Linked DNA regions of Homo sapiens. The protein of the gene in region 2 purifies or fractionates together with the protein of the main gene of each other region. This does not show direct contact. Each region holds a gene or a part of one and is shown on either strand. Other genes may lie near its edges. The genes, in order: WWC1 and CAMSAP3.

Evidence for each region.
Region 1: the proteins of CAMSAP3 (region 2) and WWC1 purify together in Homo sapiens (co-immunoprecipitation; one large-scale study listed by IntAct). This does not show direct contact.

What each region holds. Positions count from the first base shown.
Region 1 is NC_000005.10:168,427,554-168,431,362, reverse strand, and holds part of WWC1 (protein KIBRA), read right to left. Parts: intron 3,331-3,809; coding exon 3,222-3,330; intron 2,657-3,221; coding exon 2,576-2,656; intron 1,227-2,575; coding exon 1,140-1,226; intron 112-1,139; coding exon 1-111. UniProt on the Homo sapiens protein: Regulator of the Hippo signaling pathway, also known as the Salvador-Warts-Hippo (SWH) pathway.
Region 2 is NC_000019.10:7,609,181-7,612,989, reverse strand, and holds part of CAMSAP3 (calmodulin-regulated spectrin-associated protein 3), read right to left. Parts: intron 2,515-3,809; coding exon 2,375-2,514; intron 2,291-2,374; coding exon 2,197-2,290; intron 2,114-2,196; coding exon 2,059-2,113; intron 1,896-2,058; coding exon 1,822-1,895; intron 1,474-1,821; coding exon 1,404-1,473; intron 1,304-1,403; coding exon 1-1,303. UniProt on the Homo sapiens protein: Key microtubule-organizing protein that specifically binds the minus-end of non-centrosomal microtubules and regulates their dynamics and organization.

The DNA.
Region 1 (3,809 bases), on a different chromosome or scaffold from region 2:
GATACCCAGAACACCTCATTGAACACTAGAGTGTCTGAGGCGTCCAGAGGCCGGGTCCGGAACAGGCAGGTTGTGCTTTCAGAGCAAGGAAGGACAGCCACGCGGATATTCCTAGAGGGAGACAGAACCGCAGGAAATCTTGGGTCAGCCCATGTCTGGGGCTAAAATGTTGGACTAAACAGCTGCTGAAATCCCTAAGCAAACAACAGTGGATGAGAGTTTGTAGAAGTGAGGAATCTGGGGAATCAGGCCCCTATACACTGGAAGGAACTTTGACAAATCGAACAAAATTCCAGATGCATTTGTCCTTTGGTCCAGACCCTTCACTTCTAGGCATTATCCCACAGATGCCCCTGCATGAGTACCAGTGAGCTATGGAGGAGGCTATTCAGCCTGGCACTGTCTGTGTGGGCAGAAGACTGAAATTGACCCAAGCATCCCATCTTGTCTTCCTTCCGTTTTGTCCGCCTTCCTGCCCTTTCTTCTTCCCACATGTGCCACCCTCACAGGCTGGCTGAGTGTAGACCACAGACACATAAGCTTCTGTTGCCACCCTCCAGGCCTTACGATCAGAGAAAACTTGGAGGCAGATGAGTGCAATAAAGGATAAACCCATCTACCATGGGAGGAGCCCACAGGCAGACAGAGCAGGTGTTTGCATCCTACCAGCATCAAGGTAACACGCAGTCACACCCCTCCAAGAGAAGCAGTGACTGGTGTTGACTCTTGGAAACAGAAGACCTATCTCTCTCTGCAAGAAACACTTGAGCTTAGGAGAAGATAAAACAGACTGTGACCATTCTTCTCCATGAGGCTCAAAGTCCAGGAGGGTAGGGCCCAGGAAGGATCTGCTCACCACCCCATTCCTAGAGCTGGCATGCAGCAGGTGCTCAGCACGTAATGGGGCAGGAATTCACACAGTCATCTAGAGAGTGCTTGTCTTTACAGTTGGTGTGCTTGCCGTTGTGCCTGTATTCACATGCACAGCACCGACATTCAGCATCACAGTCATATGCAGTACAAACCCACAGTGCCTTGACAAGGCCCATAACTGGATCAGGACAGGGCAGAAAAGTGACCCCCAGGGGTAACTCCAGAGGGTTAGGGTATGAAATACACCTGTCCAGCTACATACTCACACTTTCTGGTCTTGTTGCTGCAACAGAGCAGAAAGGTTACTCAGCTGGATGATTAATATTGCAAATTGCTTATTCTTCTCATCATACCTGAAATGAAAAGGGGCATATGAAGTACCTATTAGTAACACACTCATCTCTCTCATTCCTTCTCTCCATTAAAAGTCACAGGACGTGGCTGTTGGCTGCCCTGGGGCCTATGGTGAGCTCTAGAGCACAGGCCCAGTGCTTTGCTGCCATGCAGGGATGTAGAGCTAGAGCTGCCAATTGTTTGAAAATTTTTTTTTTGTTTTGAAACAGGGTCTCACTCTGTCATCCAGGTTGAGTGCAGTGGCATGATCGGGGCTCATGGTAGCCTCGACCTCCCAGGCTCAGGTGATCCTCCCACCTCAGCCTCTCAAGTAGCTAGGACTACAGGTGTTCACCACCACACCCAGCTAATTTTGTGTATTTTTAGTAGAGATGGGGTTTCATCATGTTGCCTGGGCTGGTCCTGAACTCCTGGAATCAAGTGATTCCTCTGCCTCAGCCTCCCAAAGTGTCAGGATTAAAGGTGTGAGCCACCACACCCAGCCAGTTGTCTGAATTTTTAAAAAGAACCCATAAATGCGGGTGAAATTTCATGATATGGAAATGTTGTCAACTAATTCCTATTAAAAAATATTGAAGGCCAGGTGTGGTGGCTCATGCCTGTAATCTCAGCACTTTGGGAGGCCAAGGCGGGCAGATCATTTGAGGTCAGGAGTTTGAGACTAGCCTGGCCAACATGGTGAAACTCCATCTCTATTAAAAATACAAAAGTTAGCCGGGCGTGGTGGCACACACCTGTAATCCCAGCTACTTGGGAGGCTGAGGCAGGAGAATCGCTTGAACCCAGGAGGCAGAGGTTGCAGCGAGCTGAGATCACACCACTGCACTCCAGCCTGGGTGACAGGTGAGACCCTGTCTCAAAAAAAAAAAAAAAAAAAAATTGAGATCATATCATCCCCCAACAAAAGAAAACAAAAAGAACAACCATGTGTGTATTGACCCAATCTGGGCTGCAGCCCCCAGTGATCAACTTCCATCCAGATCAATGAAACCTAGATGGGATGGAAAGACAAAAGCCACAGCAACAATGAACAAACACACTGAGAGGCAGGAGGTCTCAGTCCCAGTCCTGGCTCTGCTACCAGCCAGCTCAGTGAGTTGGGCCAAGTCATAAGGTCTTTTAAAACCCCATTTCTCCAACCTCATTTCTCCTATCTGTAAAGCGGATGGCTGGGAGGTGAGGAACGAATCAGCATCCCTTCAGTTAAGAAGCTGCAATGGCCAGCAGGTCCTGCTGGTGCTGCCTTCCACCCTGGGCGGCTGTGAAGGTAAATGCTGGGGAACGCTGTGGATGAAGAAGGGACCCCACACAGACCGTTCCTTCTGTCCTCCTCGTCCTCGTCACTTACTTCAGGGCAATCTGAATTCGGGTCGCACCCACTGCTTCCGATTCGTCACTGTCAAATGCAGCAGCTTCTGAAGCACCCAGTCTGAAAGGCAACAGGGGAGGAGGAGTTAGGCTTCCCTACAGTGAACAAACTATTCTGGGAGGCTGAGGTTACATCCCCAGGAAGGAAAGTTGGGGTTTGCTCAGCTTCCCTTCAGGTCCTTTTTTAAATTTTAATTAAAAAAAATTTTTTTTAGAGATGGGGGCTCACTATGTTGCCCAGGCTGGTCTCGAACTCCTTGTATCAAGTGATCCTCCCACTGAAGCCTCCCAAGTAGCTGGGATTACAGACTCACACCACTATGCCCAGCTTGGACTCCTCTCTTAAGGGGCCTTCCCTTTCTCTAGTGCTTGCTCCTTAGCCATATACCTTTTTCGTAGCTACCACAGAACTAGCACTCCCCCAAACCTGAAGCATCTCTAACCCCAGGAAAAGTTATGCTGTCTGTGCCTTGGGCAGCCAAGAGGAAGGTGGGGTCATGCCCTCTTGGGGCTCCTCCCACACACTGTGGGGGCCAAAACCTAAGCCTCTCCACAGGCCTAGGCTCTGGATATTCAGAGTTCATGGCTTACAGGGCCACAGAGAGAGCCAGCACCCAGACACCTACCTCTGCACGGAAGCCTCGTACACACCACTGTCTCCAGCCACTGACTCGTCCGATACGGCGGCTGAGACACAGGCCACTTTCAGGCCACACCCCTGGGCCGTATTCACAGCTAGGGAAGGAAAATGGAAAGGCAGGTTCAGGAACCAGGAAACTGCCTTTGCGACTCCCAATTTTGTTTTGTTTTTGAGGCAGGGTCTCACTCATCCAGGCTGGAGTGCAGTGGCACAATCATGGCTCACTGCAGCCTCGACCACTTCGGGTTCTGGTGATCCTCCCACCTCCGCCTCCCAAATACTGGAACTACAGGCATGTGCCACCATACCCAGCTAATTTTTGAATTATTATTTTGTTGTAGAGATGGGGTTTTGCCATATTGCCCAGGCTGGTCTTGAACTCCTGGTCTTAGGCGATCTGCCTGCTTTGGCCTTCCAAAGTGTTGGGATTACAGGCGTCAGCGACTGTAATCCCAACACTTTGGGATTCGGGGAGCCTGAACTCCCAATTTTGATACACTCTCTATGGAAGACAGACGGTTCCACCAAATTCCAACCACCTCTAAATGCTAAAGCAAAAAAAAAAAAAAAAAAA
Region 2 (3,809 bases):
CGTCTCCTCCGCCAGGAGGATGGAAGAGCGCGTCTGCACGGGCACCTGGCTCGGCGAGAACTTGCGCAGGTGGGGGAGGCTGTCTACGTCGTGGGGTGGCGTAAGCACCCTGGTCAAGGGTGCCAGCCGCAGCTCCGCTGGCCGCGTGTGTTTCGGGCTGCGGGGTGACTGGCTGGGCCCGGGCCCAGGGCTGCGCCGGGTGGCCGGGACTCGCCGGGCGGGGCTGGGGGATGCAGCTTTGGGCCCCGTCGTGGGGCCAGGGATGACCCACGCAGCAGGTGGTGGGGCGGATCCGGGGGCCTCGGGCGGGGCCAGGAGCCGCTGCTGCTGGTCCGTGAGCCTCTGCATGTCCCGCTGCAGCGAGCTCAAGGCGGCACTCAGCTTGCTGACCGCTCGATTGTATTCCCCCAGCCCCTCGTGGGGCACCGGGCCCAGGTCTGGCGAGAAGGTCACTGCCTTGGGCCGTGAGGTTGGCTCACCCTGGCCCTCGCCTGCGGGCCGCTCCCCACCAGGGACTGGACCGGAATCGGCCTCCTCCGCCTCTGCTTCCGCCTCCCCAGAGGCTTCCCGCGGCTGCACCTGCAGGAAGGCGCTTTTGCCCAGCCGCTGGCGGTGCTTGGCGAATATGGCCTCAATCCGTCGCTTCTGAGCCTCGATGGCTCTGCGTTTCTCCTCCAGCCGGGCGCTGAGCTCACTCATCTCCGAGCTCAGGGCCTCCGGCGGGGCCGGAGTGGACGTGGGGGACCCCGCTCCGGCCTCAGCCTCTGCCTTCACCAGCTGTTTCTTGCGTTCTGCAAAGCTGGTCATTTTCACCTCGGAGTTGGTGGCTGCTGGGGACGAAGCCACCGCCTTCGGGGACCCCTCGGATGGGGCTGGCGGTTTCGATGCCTCCCCCACCAGACAGGGAGATGGTTTCGAGGGGGTCTCGGGGTGTGGCATGTACACTGGTGCTTTGGTGGGCCTGTCGGACAGTGGTTTGGAGGTCCCCTCGGGCAGGTAGGGGGAGGCCAGGGATGGCTTGGAGGGCCCCTCAGGGGAGTGGAGGTAGAAGCTGCCGTCGGCCGCCCCATCTGGGAGGAGCCGGGGCTCGGCACTGTGGATGATCTGCAGAGCTTCCTCGATGGTGGGCAGGTCACCAGGCTCCGGGGGTGGCTGGGTGGGGGTCCTGGCCGGCGCGGGACGCGGGGGGCCCAGGCTGTCCGAGCTCACAGAGCGGAGGAGCACAGGGTCTCCCATGACGACATCCACGTCGCTGTCCAGGCCAAAGGGGGTGCTGAATGACACAGCCTGGGAGAGGGGACGGCTGGGCGGCCGGAGGGAGGGGTCAGCCCCTGGGACCAGCCTCGGCCCCAACCCGCCCTAGCCTGCTCCACCCCCTACCCTGGCCTGTGAGGTCTACTCACCTGAGCTGCCGGTTCCAGGCCTTGCCCAGGGCCTCCATATGGGACATGGACGGGGAAGACTTCAGGGAGCCTGGGGGAGGCGATGAGTGGTCACTATGGGGACCCTGGGAACCCTGAGTGGGGTCAGCCAGCATCTGGGGACAACCTCTGCAAGGTCATTGGGTGAGTCACTGATGGCTCATTATGTGGTCTAGTGAGACCAGAGGTTTCCAGAAACAGATACCCGGGGCCATTTACTGTCACTACGGGGTACTGTGGGGCCACTGGGGAGGCCATTCTGGGGGTCACTTTGGGATGCCCAAGGGGGATCTGATGGAGAGGCTATTGGAAGGCTCACGAGGAGACAACATGAGGCCCACTGGGGCAGTCTGTGAGTGGGGGGGTCCCCCGTGACAGAAGCCACCTACCCCCTCCTCACCTGTGGATCCTCGGAGTGGGGACTGGGGGCCACCAGATGACAGAAGCGGGTGGCGGAAGGTGAAGACAGGAGAACTGTACGGAGAGACGTACTTCAGCCTCAGGACCCCCACCTCCTCCTCCGCCTCTCCCCGGGGGGAGACAACAGCATCACCCAGCTGCGTCCCAGTGCTCAGCAAGGCAGACATGGAGCCCCACACCCACAATGCCAGAGACTCGCCCAGTGTGGGGAGCGTACCTACTGCCGCTGTTGTTCTGAGGTGGGGAGGCCTCAGTGCCCCGGGGGGAGGCAGCTGCAGTACAGAGAAGAGGGTCAGGCGGGGGTTTGGCTCTCCCACCCGCCCCCGACCCGGCCCCCAGGCCCCCAGGGCCTCACCGTGACCATCGGGCAAGTCCTTCACTTGCACAAAGTCGGGCTTGAGCACCTCAAAACACATGAACAACTCGGCCAGCATCACCACCAAGTTGACCTGGAGGTGGGAGGCCGGGTCAGCAGACGGGACCCCTGGCCCCAGATGCCCGCCTCGGCCCAGGAGGCCCCAGGATGGCCTTACCTTGAGTGGCGGTGGGACGTACAGCAAGTCCTCAAGGGACAGGGGGCAGCCACGAGGAAGGCGAGAGGCACAGAAATCCTGCACGAGCTGGAGGTTGTACAGGCTGTCCGCCACAGACATGGGGTCCTTCAAGCACACCTCTGTGGGGACAGGAGGAGTGGGTCCCCAACTCTATGAGGAGGAGGATGGGGCCCCAGGGAAGCCAGGGACCAGCAGTCCCCCACACACGGAAGACCTCCTATGAGCCCAGCTTCTGCCAGGTGCCCTTCGAGAGGTGAATTCTTTTTTTTTTTTTTTTGAGATGGAGTCTCGCTCTGTCACCCAGGCTGTAGTGCAGTGGCGCAATCCCAGCTCACTGCAACCTCTGCCTCCCGGGTTCAAGTGATTCTCCCACCTCAGCCTCCTGAGTAGCTGGGATTACAGGAGTGTGCCACAACACCAGGCTAATTTTTTGTGGTTTTAGTAGAGATGGGGTTTCACCGTGTTAGCCAGGATGGTCTCGATCTCCTGACTTCATGATCCGGCCGCCTCAGCCACCCAAAGTGCTGGGATTACAGGCGTGAGCCACTGTACCCGGCCGAGGTGAATTATATGATAGACCGTCCTTAGGCCGGGGGTCCTTAACCCCCGGGGCGTGGCCTGTCAGGAACTGAACCGTACAGCAGGTGAGCTGCAGTGAGTGTATTTACAGCCGCTCCCCGTCACTTGCAGGACCACCCGAACCCCGCTTCCGTCAGATCAGCGGCGGCATTCGATTCTTACAGGAGCGCGAACCCTATTGTGAACCTGGCGTGTGAGGGATCTAGGTTGCACCCTCCTTATGAAAATCGAATGCCTGATGATCTGTCACTGTCTCTCATCACCCCCAGCTGGGACCGTCTAGTTGCAGGAACAAGCTCAGGGCTCCCACTGGTTCCCCATGATGATGAGTTGTAGAATTATTTCATTCTATGTTACAACGTATTAGATATAAAGTACATAATAAAGATTAACGTGCTTGAATTATCCCAAGACCACCTCCCTGCCTCCATCTGTGGAAAAATTGTCTTCCACAAAACCGGTCCCTGGAGCCAAAAAGTTGGTGACTATTGCCTTAGGCCTTTGCATCTTTCTAGAACACTCTCCCCCAAGACCTCAGCTCAAAAAGCTTTTCCGGGCCAGGTGTGGTGGCTCACACCTGTAATCTTAGCACTTGGGGAGGCTGAGGTGGGAGGATGTTTGAGCCCAGGGATTCAAGACCAGCTTGGGCAACATAGCAAGACCCCATCTCTATTTTATACTTTTTTTTTTTTTTTTTTGAGATGGAGTCTCGCTCTGTTGCCCAGGCTAGAGTGCAATGGCATGGTCTTGACTCACTGCAACCTCCACTTCCTGGGTTCAAGCGATTCTCCTGCCTCAGCCTCCTGTGTAGCTGGGATTACAGGCGCCCGCCACC